4 linked regions of the Homo sapiens genome follow. The protein of the gene in region 3 purifies or fractionates together with the protein of the main gene of each other region. This does not show direct contact. Each region holds a gene or a part of one and is shown on either strand. Other genes may lie near its edges.

Evidence for each region.
Region 1: the proteins of AZIN2 (region 3) and SMARCAL1 purify together in Homo sapiens (affinity purification with mass spectrometry; one large-scale study listed by BioGRID and IntAct). This does not show direct contact.
Region 2: the proteins of AZIN2 (region 3) and CORO7 purify together in Homo sapiens (affinity purification with mass spectrometry; 2 studies listed by BioGRID and IntAct, with this or other methods). This does not show direct contact.
Region 4: the proteins of AZIN2 (region 3) and DDX11 purify together in Homo sapiens (affinity purification with mass spectrometry; 2 studies listed by BioGRID and IntAct, with this or other methods). This does not show direct contact.

The regions. Positions count from the first base shown.
Region 1 is NC_000002.12:216,471,421-216,474,983, forward strand, and holds part of SMARCAL1 (SWI/SNF-related matrix-associated actin-dependent regulator of chromatin subfamily A-like protein 1), read left to right. Parts: intron 1-3,563. UniProt on the Homo sapiens protein: ATP-dependent annealing helicase that binds selectively to fork DNA relative to ssDNA or dsDNA and catalyzes the rewinding of the stably unwound DNA. Rewinds single-stranded DNA bubbles that are stably bound by replication protein A (RPA).
Region 2 is NC_000016.10:4,353,990-4,357,607, forward strand, and holds the end of CORO7 (coronin-7), read right to left. Parts: intron 3,271-3,618; coding exon 3,179-3,270; intron 1,384-3,178; coding exon 1,297-1,383; intron 1,175-1,296; coding exon 1,169-1,174; 3' UTR 553-1,168; downstream 1-552. Other genes in the region: CORO7-PAM16 protein, read right to left, coding at 1,297-1,383, 3,179-3,270. UniProt on the Homo sapiens protein: F-actin regulator involved in anterograde Golgi to endosome transport: upon ubiquitination via 'Lys-33'-linked ubiquitin chains by the BCR(KLHL20) E3 ubiquitin ligase complex, interacts with EPS15 and localizes to the trans-Golgi network, where it promotes actin polymerization, thereby facilitating post-Golgi trafficking.
Region 3 is NC_000001.11:33,079,935-33,083,958, forward strand, and holds the start of AZIN2 (antizyme inhibitor 2), read left to right. Parts: upstream 1-1,218; 5' UTR 1,219-1,360; exon of another isoform or gene 1,361-1,453; 5' UTR 1,454-1,574; intron 1,575-1,666; 5' UTR 1,667-1,878; intron 1,879-2,243; 5' UTR 2,244-2,315; coding exon 2,316-2,420; intron 2,421-3,083; exon of another isoform or gene 3,084-3,208; intron 3,209-4,019; coding exon 4,020-4,024. UniProt on the Homo sapiens protein: Antizyme inhibitor (AZI) protein that positively regulates ornithine decarboxylase (ODC) activity and polyamine uptake.
Region 4 is NC_000012.12:31,101,334-31,104,896, reverse strand, and holds the end of DDX11 (ATP-dependent DNA helicase DDX11), read right to left. Parts: intron 3,065-3,563; coding exon 2,915-3,064; intron 2,655-2,914; coding exon 2,586-2,654; intron 2,471-2,585; coding exon 2,370-2,470; intron 1,962-2,369; coding exon 1,877-1,961; intron 1,581-1,876; coding exon 1,502-1,580; intron 1,321-1,501; coding exon 1,166-1,320; coding exon of another isoform or gene 1,091-1,165; coding exon 1,061-1,090; coding exon of another isoform or gene 864-1,060; 3' UTR 98-863; downstream 1-97. UniProt on the Homo sapiens protein: DNA-dependent ATPase and ATP-dependent DNA helicase that participates in various functions in genomic stability, including DNA replication, DNA repair and heterochromatin organization as well as in ribosomal RNA synthesis.

The sequences.
Region 1 (3,563 bases), on a different chromosome or scaffold from region 3:
ATCTCAGCTGACTGCAACCTTCGCCTCCTGGCTTCAAGCATTTCTGCCTCAGCCTCCCAAGTAGCTGGGAATACAGGTGCCTGCTACCATGCCCAGCTAATGTTTGTATTTTTATTAGAGACAAGCTTTCACTGTGTTGGCCAGGCTGGTCTCAAACTCTTGGCCTCTGGTGATCCACCCACCTTGGCCTCCCAAAGTGCTAAGATTACAGGCGTGAGCCACCATGCCCAGCCCACAGTGGCTATGATTCTCTTGTACATTTGTACATTTTTGGAGGGCAGTTTGACAGTAAATTAAGGCGTGCACTCAATTTTTCAAATTTTACTTCTAGGAATTTATCCTAAGGAAATCATCAGACTAGTCAGATTTATAAATGAGAATATTAGTCATGCTGTTTATAATATTCAATAATTAAAAATCTAAGTTTTTATCAACAGATATACTATTAAATAAATTATAGTCCATTCAGCCATAAAATATAATGTTGATCAGTGGTTCCTAACTTTGGAGATCATTGAACCCTATAAGAACCTGAAGAAACTCCAAAATTGAAGGTCTTGGTATCTGGTTAGTATATATTGCTATCGGAAGATGTCCATACTATGGACAAAAAGCTGTTGTATGTATAATAATTTTTAAAAATTGTCATGTTGTCCAGGCGCAGTGGCTCACGCCTGTAATCCCAGCACTTTGGGAGACTGAGGCAGGCAGATCACCCGAGGTTAGGAATTCTAGATCAGCCTGGACAACATGGCGGAACCCCATCTCTACTAAGAATACAAAAATTAGCTGGGCATAGTGGTGCATGCCTGTAATCCCAGCTAGTCAGGAGGCTGAGACACGAGAATTGCTTGAACCTGGGAAGCAGCGGCTGCAGTGAGCCGAGATCCTGCCACTGTACTGCAGCCTGGGTGAGAGACAAGACTCTATCTCAAAAATAAGATAAATAAAATAAAATAAATAAAATAGTCATCCATAGAAAAAAGCCTGATTAATATATACCAGTACATTAATGATGATTATCTCTAAGTAGTCATCATTATCTTTTTAGTTTTTCTGTATTTTTGCAATGAGTGTGTATTATTTTTATAATAAGAAAAATTACATTTTTAAAAATAAAGGAGAATTTAGAAAACAACAGAAAAGTAATAGAAGGAAATAAGCTAGGGAAACTATTAGCCACCTCTGTGACATACAAATAATGGTTTTTACATGTAAAGGTATTTCCTAACTCCCAGTAGGAAAAAAAAAAAGGGGGCAACCTGTATAAATAGATAGTTCATCAAAGAAATGACACCAGTAGCCAATTAAAAGATAACGAAAACACCCAATTTCACTAGTAATCAAGTTAGTGAAAAATAAAATTTTTTTTTTTACCCCATCAAGTCAGTAGAGGTTTTAAAAATGTGCGGTGCTCACTGTTGATGAAAGTGTACGAAGATGGACATGCTAATACATTAGTTATTGGAAAGCAATTTGGCAATAATATCAGGAGCCTTAAATTAAGTTTTTTCTTTTTGCTATCGTACTTTGGTTTGTAGTCCAATCTAAGAAAATCACCAAAAATTGGCATCCTCTTAAAAACTTTCCATTTTAATAGCATTCTTGAGGTATAATTGACATGCAGTAAACTGCACATAATGTGTACAATTAATGAGAATCAAGATAGGAAACATATCTGCCACCCGCTGCCCCCACCCCCAGAGTTTTCCTTTGTAATCACGCCCTCCTGCCCCTTCCCTCACCCTCCCATCCTCAAGCAACCTCTGGTCTACGGTCTGTCACTAAGGATTAGTTTGCGGATTTTTAGAATTTTATATAAATATGGAATATAATGGAATATAAATGTGGAGAAAAGGACATTCAGGATGTACTTTTTTTTTTTGAGATTTATCCATGTTGTTGTGTGTCTCGTTCCTTTTTAGTGTTCACTCCTTGGTTTTCCTTTTTTTTTTTTTTCTTTTTTGGTTATCTAGACCTGCAGATGTTCACTCCCTTTTAGTGCTAAATAACATCCCATTGTACATCATCTGTTCACTTGTTGATGGACATTTACCAACATATCCTTTTAGGAAAAATTTGAGACCCCTAAATCTGCAGAAATAGAAGGGTTAAATTATGCTGTTGCTGCATAATGACAAAGGGCCATTAAAAATGATATTTTAGAACACTTAACAATACAGTTTTACTTATAATGTGTTTTATTGGGGGAAAACAGGATATAAAACTTTTTATTTAAAAGATATATATACCATACACATCAAAAAAAGAGACAGGAAAAAGTAGATTGGTTAGATTACTAAATGTTTTTATTTTCCTTATCATGTTTATCACTAGCAAGAATAAATAAATGCCATTTAAAAGAAAATAACTAAACTAAACATGCAGTTACCATACAACACAACAATTGACTTTTGAGCATTTTTCTTTGGGAAATGAAAACTTAGGTTAACAGAAAAACTTGTACACACATGTTCATAGCAGCTTTATTTGTAGTAGCCCCAAACTGGAATCAACTCAGATGTCCTTCAACAGATGGATGGTGAAACTATGGTATATCCATACTGTGGGCTATTTCTCAACAATAAAAAGAAGAAAATTATTGATACAGGTAACAACTTGGATGAATCTCCAGAGAGTGCTGAATGCAAAGGCCCATTCCAAAAGGTTATATGCTGTGCAATTTATATAACATTTGTATAGCATTCTTTTTTTTTTTTTTTTTTTTTTTTTTTTTGAGACAGAGTCTCGCTCTGTCACCCAGGCAGGAGTGCAGTGGTGCCATCTTGGCTCACTGCAACCTCTGCCTCCCGGATTCAAGTGATTCTCCTGCCTTGGCCTCCTGAGTAGCTGGGATTACAGGCGCACACCAGCACATCTGGCTAATTTTTGTATTTTTAGTAGAGGCGGGGTTCCGCCATGTTGGCCAGGCTGGTCTCAAACTCCTGACCTCAGGTGATCTACCTGCCTTGGCCTCCCAGAGTGTTGGGATTACAGGCATGAGCCACTGTGCCTGGCCTATAGTGCATTCTTGAAAAAAAAAAAAAAAATTGGCCAGGTGCAGTGGCTCACGCCTGTAATCCCAGCACTTTGGGAGGCCGAGGCAGGCGGATCACCTGAGATCAGGAGTTTGAGACCAGCCTGGCCAACATAGTGGAACCACGCCTCTACTAAAAATACAGAAATTAGCCAGATGTGGTGGTGTGCGCCTGTAATCCCACCTAGTTGGGAGGCTGAGGCAGGAGAATCACTTGAACCCCAGGGGGCGGAGGTTGCCGTGAGCCAAGATCGTGCCACTGCACTCCAGCCTGAGTGACAAGAGTGAAACTTCATCTTAAAAAAGAAAAAGAAAAAAAATGTTTTTAGAAATTCAGGTCAGATTAGTGGCTATCAGGAGCTAAGGACCGTGGAAAGAGGAGGGAGGTAAAAGGATCCTTGCAATGTTGGAGTTGTTGAGTATCTTAACATTGGAGGTGAATATATGAAAACCTACACAGGTGATAAAATTGTGTAGAACACACACATACAGTAAAACAAGAAATCTGAAGATCAGTGGATTGTAT
Region 2 (3,618 bases), on a different chromosome or scaffold from region 3:
GGATCTTGACTCACTGCAACCTCTGACTCCTGGGTTCAAGCAATTCTCCTCCCTCAGCTTCCCAAGTAGCTTGGATTACAGGCGCTTACCACTACACCTGGCTACTTTTTGTATTTTTAGTAGAGACAGCGTTTTACCATGTGGGCCAGGCTGGTCTTGAACTCCTGGCCTCAAACGATCCTCCCACCTTGGCCTCCCAAAGTGCTAGTATTATAGGCATGAGCCACCGTGCCCAGCCAGTTTCTCTTCTTTACTGCTGTCTTCACACTCTATATGCTCGTGTGCAGTCTGGTTCCCCTGCATAAGGAGGCTGTAAGAAGCTGAAGGTCCTTGCAAGACCTTATCTCTCCTGTCCTTTATAGCATCCCGCCATCCAGAGCACTGCCAGGAACCTGCATGGTGAGCGAATGACTCCCAGCAGTGCGCAGGTGATTGGGCCTTGGGACCAGAGTGAGGCTGAGATAAAGGGGAGCCCAGGGCCAGACCCCTGTCACCCACATTCCTGTCCCCTTCCCTTTCCAGCCAGCCCAGAGACCACAGCAGCACAAGAGGTGGCCAGCTTAAAAAAGTTTAATTGCTGAAAACATCCAAGGCAGGTGCGGGCCAGTCCCTGCGGGGCTCACACCCCCCTTATTGGACCATCAGCTCTGTGATGCCCCCTTCTCCTGGCTACAAACCTGGGAAGTAGGGCAGCTGGTCCCAGGGCCCTGAGACTGGTGCTGCTCTAGAAGGCCTGGTGGGGGGCCAGCCCCCAAGGCCCTTGACCAGAACTGGAACAGCAGGCAAGATGGGGCAGCGTGGGGTGACCAAAGATCCTGGATGAGGCCAATCCAGGCTGGGACCAGCCCAGGTCAGCAGTGAGACCAGGGGAGACAGGGTGCCCAGGGCCTGCCCAGGGACATGCTGCTGACCCCCCGCCACCCTGCACCCCTGGCCACATGCTAGCGGGCAGCTGATGAGCAGCAGCTGACCCCAGAGACAGCAGAGGTGAAAACAGTCCCTGGGAACTGCCAGAGGCCCAGAGGATGTGGAAGTGCCCACGGGAAGGCAGGAGTGCAGGGGTGACATGTGCCGGGGCCAGAGAGGTATCTTCCAGCTTGAGGATGAGCCGTGAGGTGTGCACTAGGAAGTGGCAGCACAGGTGAGGTGGAGGTGACGGGGGCGCAGGCTAGTCCTGGGGCGAAACACCAAGAGGTGGGAGGGAGTCAGGAGGGCCTGGGAAGGGAGGAGGCATGCACCGTGGCATGTGCGAGGGACCGCGCTGCCTGCCGGGAAGTGAGGCCACTCACTACTCACCCACTCGTCCTCGTCCACGCCTTCAAAGGAGTCCTGGGGGAGTGGGTCCTCCCGGTTCCCCAGTTTTGCCACCATGGCATTCAGCAGCTGGGAGAGAGGGCAGAAGAAGGGTAGGTAAGGGAATAGGACTCCCTGTTCCCTCTCCCACTCCAAGAACAACCCTGACAAGGCTGTGAAAAGAACTTTTTTTTTTTTTTTAGACGGAGTCTTGCTCTGTCGCCCAGGCTGGATGGAGTGCAGTGGCGCGATCTCGGCTCACTGCAAGCTCTGCCTCCCGGGTTTACACCACTGTCCTGCCTCAGCCTCCCAAGGAGCTGGGATTACAGGCGCCCACCACCATGCCCGGCTAATTTTTTGTATTTTTAGTAGAGACGGGGGTTTCACCGTGTTAGCCAGGATGGTCTCGATCTCCTGACCTCGTGATCCGCCCGCCTCGGCCTCCCACGGTGCTGGGATTACAGGCGTGAGCCACAGCGCCCGGCCTTTTTGTTTGTTTGTTTGTTTTAGAGAGAGACAAGGTCTTGCTCTGTCACCAAGGCTGGAGTGCAGTGGTGCAATCATGGCTCACTGCAGCCTTGACTTTCTGGGTGCAAGCAATTCTCCTGCCTCAGCCTCCCAAGTAGCTGGGACTACAAGTGTGTAACACCACACCTGGTTAATTTTTATTTTATTTATTTATTTTTTTGAGACAGAGTTTTGTTCTTGTTGCCTAGGCTGGAGTGCAATGGCACAATCTCGGCTCACCACAACCTCTGCCTCCTGGGTTCAAGCGATTCTCCTGCCTCAGCCTCCCAAGTAGCTGGGATTACAGGTATGCGCCACCATGCCCGGCTAATTTTGTGTTTTTAGTAGAGACGAGGTTTCATCATGTTGGTCAGGCTGGTGTCGAACTCCCAACCTCAGGTGATCCGCCCTCCTCGGCCTCCCAAAGTGCTGGGATTACAGGCGTGAGCCACCATGCCTGGCCACACCTGGTTAATTTAAAAAATTTTTTTGTAGAGATGGGGTTTCACTGGTCTCAGGCTGGGTCTCAAACTCCATCACTTATATCCTCTTGCTTTGGTCTCCCAAAGTGCTGGGATTACAGGTGTGAACCACCATGCCTGGCCAAAAGAGCCACTATATTTTATTTTTATTTTTATTTTTATTTATTTATTTATTTATTGAGACGGAGTCTCGCTCTGTCACCCAGGCTGGAGTACAGTGGCACGATTTCGGCTCACTGCAATCTCCACCTCCTGGGTTCAAGTGATTCTCCTGCCTCAGTCTCCCGAGTAGCTGGGATCACAGGCGCCCGCCACCATGCCCGGCTAAATTTTTGTATTTTAGTACAGACGGGGTTTCACCGTGTTGCCCAGGGTGGTCTCAAACTCCTGAGCTCAAGCAATCCGCCTGCCTTGGGCTCCCAAAGTGTTAGGATTACAGACATGAACCACCGTGCCCGGCCTCAAAAGAGCCATTTTAATTACAGCCCTGACAAAATCGATGGGTTTCTATTGAAAAAGACACAAAGAAGAGACAGGGGGAGTAAGAGACTGAGAGGCTGCGGCATGTGGCACCAGATACAAGGGCTACTATCTCTGCACATGGCCTCAAGTGCTCAAAATATACTCCAAGGTCCCAAAAGCACTTGGGCCCAGAACTGCCGGCTTAGGCTGGGTTTGGCCTGGCCAGGGCAGGGCTCCCACTGCCCTCCCCCACTTCCCGGGCCCCATGGTCAGTGGTAGGGCTCTGGAAGGTCTCCCCACCAGGCTCTGGTGTGAAGGGGACGTGACATGTGGCTGCTGTCCCAGTCTGGGTTGGGGATGGAGAACTAAGGGGCCGTGGCCAGGTGCAGCCAGGACTCTGTCACCTCCGCACAGCTGCTCTCTCCCATGCCTACCTCCTCCTTCTTTTGCTGGTCAGACTTTTCTTCCAGGTACTGCGCTGAGGATGGGGCCCGACGAGCAGGGGCCTCTCGGGGGGCTTGGCTCACTGGGACAGAGCAAGGACACGTGTCAGAGAGTCCCCTTCGTTAGGGCTCTTTGGTGCCAAGCCCTCGGGGATTTCTTTCTTTCTTTTCTTTCTTTCTTTTTTTTTTTTTTTTTTTGAGATGGAGTTTTGCTCTTGTTGCCCAGGCTGGAGTGCAATGATGTGACCTAGGCTGACTGCAACCTCCGCCTCCTCTGGGTTCAAGCGATTCTCCTGCTTCAGCCTCTGGAGTAGTTGGGATTGCAGGCGCCCACCACGCCAGGCTAATTTTGTATTTTTAGTAGAGATGGGGTTTCACCATGTTGGCCAGGCTGGTCTCAAACCCCCGACCTCAGGTGATCCACTCGCCTC
Region 3 (4,024 bases):
CCAGCACTTTGGGAGGCCGGGGCGGGTAGATTACTGGAGGTCAGGAGTTCAAGACCACCCTGGCCAATATGGTGAAACCCCATCTCTACTGAAAATACAAAATTAGCTGTGCGTGGTGGCATGCGCCTATAATCCCAGTTACTTGGGAGGCTGAGGCAGGAGAATCGCTTGAACCCAGGAGGCAGAGGTTGCAGTGAGCTGAGATCGTGCCATTGCACTCCAGCCTGGGCAAAAAGAGTGTCTTGACTGTTCTTGTACACTTACTTTTCCAGATGAACTTTTATATCAGCTTTTGAGTAACACAGCTATTGAATCTTCCTCAGCATTCTTGTCTATGCCAGGCACCAGGCTCTTGAGCAGGGTATTCAGTCCTTGCCCTTGGGAAATCACAAACTAGATGCAAAGTGTAACCAAACAAGAAGTGTAAAATAACAACAGGAATCTCACGCTATGGGTAACAAGAACCAAATGAGTGAGGGGTCCAGACAGACTAAATGCTGTGTTCCTTGGGGCCAGGCAAGTCATGGAAGGTTCAACAGAGGTGACATTATACAGGACTTTGATGGGTGAGCAGCAGCTTTCGGTATAGAAGAAATGCTTTGAGTTGAGGAAGTCCGGGAAAGCTTCTTGGAGAAGGAGACACATTTCTATTGAGAGATGAGTAAGAGTTTGCCGGGTTCACAGGATGGGATAAAGGGAGGGATTGCCCTGAACTGGGAAAGTCACAAAAAGGTTCTCTGAAGACATTTTAGATGCGTTTTGAGTTGGAGTCGGGGAAGATGCCTGGAAGAGGCAATTAAATAAAAAGAATTTTATTACAAAAGTAATACAAGGACATGTCATTGGAACCGGGTTTCGAGAGATGAGTGAGCAGTTCCTGACGCAGACAAGAGCTGGACCACGAAGTAAGTTGAGGCAGAGGCAGAAAAGGCTTCCTGGTCCTGCCCACTCTCTAAGACCTAAGATGCAGGGTCTAAGTGTCTCACCTGCGTGGCGGCGGCCCTGTAGTTCTGACTTCCAGCGTGAGGTAGCCACCGCCAGGCCTCCGGGGGAGAAGACTACAGTAAGGGCGAGCAGAGCTGAATGCTTTATGTCGGAATCGACCAATGGGATGGCGGCACCCGGTTGCCAGGGCTACGGCCAAGCGGAGGTAGGGCCTCGGCACTATGGGCGGGGCCTGGGCGGGGTTATATAAGCCAGCGGCGGGCGGAAGGCGGGGCGTGGGGGTCTGTGGCTGCTGGGCTGGCGGGGCGCAGGCCGCGGGACCCGAGCCCGGGGAAGCGAGAGAGCGGAGGCGCCGAGGATCCGATTCACTCCCTGGGGAGACCTATGGGCCGAAGCCGTGTAAATGCGTTTTAAGGCGAGTGCGGAAAGTGGCCTGGGGAGCCTCGGGGAGCGGACGCCCTCCGCCCTGGTGCTGACCTGCCTCCCTGCCCCTTCTGCCTCCTGTCAGCAGAGGCCTCGGCTCCGCAACTGCCACTCCTCCTCGGGGTGTTGCACAAGTTTCGAGGTCACCGGCGACCCCCCCTAGCAGCGCGCCTGGCTCTGGCCCCCGCGAAGGAGGACGGAGTTTGGTAAGGGGCCCTGGGGGTTGGGGGGACCTCAGCCCTGCACTCTGTAGGAGTCACTCGGACAGAAAAAACCTCGGCCTTCCGTTCTCTCCCAGGAGCTTGCGGCCCCCACCCACCGCGTGGCGTCCCCAGGCACGCCTAGAATTCTAGCACCTCAGGATCAGTCCAGCCCCCATTTACAATTGGGGAAACTGCGGCTCCGAAAGGGTCAGAGGGTACCCGAGGTCAAGCAGTAGAGAGCGGACTCGAACTTAAGCTCTTGCTCTTAGGCTGAGACGCCTTGATGTGGCCACCGGCTACCCTCTAGGTGGGCGTGGTCAAGACTGGGGGCGCCCTGGAAACTTCCCCACCCAAGTTTCTCAGATTTTCTGTTCCATCTCTCTCTCACTCTTTCCTGAAATCCAGAATTTCAGAACTGGGAAGGCTCTCCAAAACAATTCATCCATTTTACAGAGGGAGCAACTGACTCGGAGAGGCAGTGACATTTGGGCATACGGTGCCTTGTCTCCGTCTGAAATCCGGGATTCTTGACTTTCTCCACCCTTGCCCAGTGAACCCCGGGCTTGTGCTGGGGGCGGGTTGTGACGGGATTGGGATCCCTGGCCTCGGGAGGCGAGTGGGGCAGCAGAGCCGGCCCCCCAGCGGTTCCCTTCATCTCCCCTCGCCCCGCAGTGTGTTGCATACTTTCTAAGGCGGCGGCTGCAGCAGCGGCTCCATCCAGCCCGTCAGCTCCTCCTGCAAGGCATGGCTGGCTACCTGAGTGAATCGGACTTTGTGATGGTGGAGGAGGGCTTCAGTACCCGAGACCTGCTGAAGGAACTCACTCTGGGGGCCTCACAGGCCACCACGGTGAGGGGCTGGGAATGGGGGTGGGTCCCCGGTCCCCTGTACAGATCAGCTGCCTCCTCAGGAAGGGTCCCTAGGGCCCTCATCTTATCCTTTCGCTTATTTGGTACGCAATCCTTGCTATTTGCAAGAGAGGGGCTCAATTTATCCCCAATTCTTTGTCCTTGCCCCCAAACCTGCCCCTCCTATGTTGCCTTTTTACCCAGCCCTCCAAGGTCAGAAACGGGGGATTCCTTTCCTGCTGCCCCCTCTCCCTCACCGCCCACATCTAGGCATTACCAAGCTCTGTGAATTCTGCCTCCTTAAATAAGCCTCCAGTGTGCTTATGTGGAACCTCGCTTTCTAGTTCAGTCTTCCTCTCTCCAAAGGCCCCCTGATCTCCCGGTCTCATGCCACCCCCTCCAAAGGTATCATAGTCCTGTTCAAAATCTGAATTTGGCAATTCTCCACTGCCTACAGGATCAAGTCAGAGCTTCCCTGCCTCCATAGCCCCATTCCCAGCTTTCCCCACAGTATATATTATGCTCCTTCGGAGCTGAATGACTCAATTTGCATTTCCCAATGATGCTGTGTGCCCAATGATGCTATTACCATGCCTTTGCCCAGGCTGTTCCTTCTGCCTGCAGCATCCTTCTCTCAGCCTCTCCCCTCTTTACCCCTTTCTAGTCATTCCTTGCTTCTCATCAGTGTTGCCTTTCCTGATCGCCCCAGGCAGATTTTCTATTTTCTTTCTCCATGCCCCTGCATTGCACCTTGTAGAAACTGCCATCTAACATCTGCTGAATGGACTTGTAAGTACTTAAGGGGTTCCTTTTCTTCCAGACCCAAGCTCCTTCAGAACAACAGTACTGTTTGGTCATCTCTGTCCCTTAGCATAACGTTTGGCACCAAGTGGGCATGAGTAAAAAAGTGTTGCATGAAAGGGAAACTGAGTCCCAGGGAAGCAACTCTGGAAGGGTCCCTTCCACATTTAAGTAATGTGGTCTCACCCACAGCCTCATACATGTTTGGCCTTTAGCACATCTACAATGAACAGTTGTCCATAGGGATAGGTTGCAGTGTCAGTGGGACTAGCTTAAGGCTTCATTGAGCACCTGTGTTTGGAAGGCAGTGAGCTGTAGGTCATAGCTTCTGCCTTTAGGGAGTTTACCCTTTTCTAGAATGGACAGATGCATATGCAGTTCTGATACCTTGGAAGCATATGCAAATGCAGTGGGAGCATTTAAAAGCAGAGTTGCCTTATTGGTTTGGGGAAGGTGGCATTTGAGTGAAACTTTAAGGATTTTGCCAGACACAGGAGTGGGGAGGGTATTCTGCAGGACATGGTGGGAACAAAGGTTTGAAGGTGGGAAAATGATCCAGCCTACAGCTGGAGTTTTAGCCGCATTGAGGGGAGGGATTGGGGCTAGATCAGAGCCTTGAATGCCAGGCTGAGGAGTTTGCCTTCTGCCCTGTAGGCTTGGGGAGGCCCAGAAAACTTAGCAGCAGGGTAGCTCTGTGGCCAGTACTGAACCTGGGTCAGGTACTTGGAAGGATCACGGATGGCATGCACAGGGTGCGAGCTGGATGGGGTCTCACATTCATCCACTTCTTGTCATTCAGGACGA
Region 4 (3,563 bases), on a different chromosome or scaffold from region 3:
CATCGGAGGATGGCTCCACCCAGCCCCTGCACCAGTGCGCTCCTCGATTCCCTAAAGAGGCTTCCAGAGAAAACAGCAGCACATATCAATAAAAAACTCAGCAGAAACCAACAGCACACTTTTATTTAAGGACCTATAGCTGTGCAGGATGCAAACATCTGGGCATCAGTGACTTTCCTCCTGCCCCCGTTTGTCCCTGATGGTGGCAGAAGATCCCAGCTGACCACAGCCCCTTTCTCTGGGGTCAGAGGGAGAAGACAGGCGCAGTCAGCAGGGGCAGCTGTTGCAGGTGGGAGGGATATTTTCCCACAGGAACAAAGGTCTCCGTGATGACACGGGGTCTCTATAGTCATGTTGAGAGCCTAACGGCCCTTGGCATAATTGCTGGTGTTGGGGTAGAAGGTGTCTTGGAGTTTGCTCAAGTGGTTGAGAGGGAGGGAGGTGCCATAGACTTGGAGGAACTGGCACGAAGCCAAGGATACAAATCCAGGCAGGGCTGTGGGACAGGATAGGGAGCAGGGCCTTCTACTGAAGGAGTGACTCAGGAAGGAGGAGGGGAAGGTGACAAGCCCCTGGGCAGGAGCCCTGTGGCCATGGATCATTTTAAATTGAGACCAGAGAGTGAGCAGTCCAGGGCAGCTATAACCTTGGCTAGAAAGGGCAGAGGCAGATGGGCCTGCTCCATCTCGCCTCTTAAGAAGGTGGGCAGGACGGAGATGCCACAGTGGATGCCACAGCTGCCACAGCCTCCTGCGGAGACCAGGAAGGAAGCCTGGCTCTCAGCCATGCAGGATGGAAAGAAAGATTCTATTCCAGGAGGGGAGCTGCCCTGGAACGCCCCAAGGACAGCCAGGACCCACTGTTCATTCAGGATTCCCCCATTTTCTCCTACGGGAGCTAACGCCTGTGCCTGGGTCCTGGCAGCACTCTGGACTCCACACTCTCCTCCTGGGTTTCACCTTTGTAACAGGATCCCCGCAGACCACGCCCACGACAAACACTGTCTCCAGCGGGCAGGACAAAGGAAGGGCACGGCGCCAGGCAGTGGTGTGGTTGCCCATCAGGAAGAGGCCGACTTCTCCCGGTGAAACTGGGCAGACAGAAGGCAGTGAGAAATGTGATCTCGGGGTGGGGAGGCTCTCAGAAAGAAAAAGGTAGGACTGACCTTCTGCACAGCAGCAATGGCGGGGCCAAAGGTAGCTTTGACCTCCACACGGGCTCGGATCCAGGCCGGCAGCTTGGCCAGGACAGGGGGCCGGGCATATCGCTGGTCCAGGAGCACTACGCTGGCAAAATCCTTCTGGTGCCTGATGGCCCTGCCTGCATAGGAACAGAGGCTGGGGCTCCGAGCAACACCTGCCTCCCCCCTACAGCACATTCCCACGGCGACCCCCTCCCCTTCCTCAGACTTATATAGGAAACAGGGCAGGCAACCCCTCTTTCCTGTTCTCCCTTTCTCCAGCCCCCATCTGTCCACCCAGCTGGAGGCAGCCAGGCTCACCTATGGACTGGTTGACGGCCTTCATGCACAGGTTCTCCACCAGAGCCTTCCCTGGGGGTGCCTGGCCGGGGGCTCTGGGCTGGGAGTGAAGGGGAAGACCCATCAGGACTGTTCCCTGCCTGCAGCTCCCCCTGGGAAAAGACCCTGCCAGGCTTTGGAGCCAGACCAGGAGGCTTCGTGGCCAATGCCAGCAGCAGGGGTCCAGGTGACATCACAGGGAAGATCAAGAGGGTGTGGAGGGGCATCCAAGCTTCCGGAGGGGGCAGGAGACGCCAGCGCAGCGGGGAAGGCCTGGCTGTATCAGCCCTGGGGGTGATGCCACTCCCACCCACTGCCTACTCTCCTGTCACCCTCTGTGACACTGGGGTCACTCACGAGGGTTTGATCCAAGTAGGCCATCTTCTCCTGCAGCTCTGCAGACCTGATGTTGGGGAAGGGCATGCCCACCATCACCACACACCTGGGCGGGGGAGACAAGAGCCCAGCAGGTGGACGTCAGGACCTCCCGGGTCATCACCCACGTCACCAGCTGCTCCGTTCTACCCCTTCCCTCAGCCTCTCCGACTGTGATCAAAACTCAGCCTCTCTCCACTCTGTACCTACCACCTGGAGAGGGCTTGTTCGGCTGAGAGATCCCGTCTAGGCCAATTGACTGGGTCCTGATACAGCAATGGGTAGCCTAAAATCCAACTGCTCTCCCAGGACCAAACCCAGAGCTGCTGAGCCCCTCCCTCCAGCTGGCTGGTCTGAGCAGTCGCAGCCCAGCTGTGGGCTCTAATGGCAGCAGAGAGCAGGCAGGGGCCCAGCTGCTGGGAGTGAGGGCCGGCCATGTATCACGGCCCAGGAGACGAGCAGAACCACTACTTACCGGCCTAGGTTGTCAGAGAAGTTGATCCCTTCACTCATCTTTCCTCCAACCACAGAGAGGAGCAGGGCCCCTGTCACCTGGCCTCTCTCCTGGCCACAGGCCTGTAGGAGAAACCCAGACGCTGAGTTGCTGAGCCAAAACTTGGATGACACCCACAACGTTTCCAGCTGCCACCCCCACACGATCTCAGACCCAAGCCCAGCATGACGCCCGCACCTGGATGCACCTGGAATATGCCAGCAGCACCTGCTCCACCTGGTGTGCGCTCTTAGGTTCCTGGAATATCTGAGAAAGACAGAGGACATTTCCCAGAGACAGGTTCAGGGTGCCAGGTCTCGAGTCTGCTCGTGGCCTTGTGTTTTCTGGCCAGGGGACTGGAGAACCTCACAGCCAGGGACTTTGGGGGAAATCCTCTGTAGTCAGGGACTGGGAGCGGTGGGGATGAGGAGCCAGAAGCCTGTCCTGACCCGATGAGCACGAGAGCTCCCAGGAGGACTCAGTGGCACTGTCCTCACAAGTGGGAAGGCTGCCGACAGGCCACTCACCTTCTTCCTGGCAGCCAGACGGCCCAGCAGGCCACCCTTCTCCCAGTGGGCATGGACCTGGCGCAGGTACTCGTAGGAGGGGAAGAAACAGACCACCCCTCCAGGAACCACACCGCACAGGTTACAGAGAATGCGACCCACCTCGTCCATCTAAGGAAGGAAAGGAGGGAGGGAGGGAGCCCCCATGGAGCAACCCCTCAGCCACCCACAAACCGCGTCTTCACCTTGAGACTCAAAACTGAGGAGAGACCCTCGGCAGGACTACAGCCAAGGAAGAGGACTTGGCTCCCCTGGGTGGGAACCACGGGGTGGTAGGTGCCACCTCCCACCAAACACACCCAGCCGCTGCTGCTGACTGCGCCTTTCTGACACATGTCACAGCACTAGCGTCCCTAGGGGGCCTCCCTATTGCCCTGGCACTGAGTCCTCCCTTCTTCTGTCCAGGGTCCTGATGGGCACCACAACGACAATCAGGGGCTGCACACCCCAGGCACACCACAGGAGATGCCCCCAAGCCCCACATCCCTACCCCCGGCAGGGGCAGATATAACCAAAGGGCAAGAGAGCCAAAGGGAACTAGCAGCTTTCTCCTGTGTGAGGCGTCCTCAGAGGATGCCTGGAGGTTTTATGAATACATATTTCGCAGCCT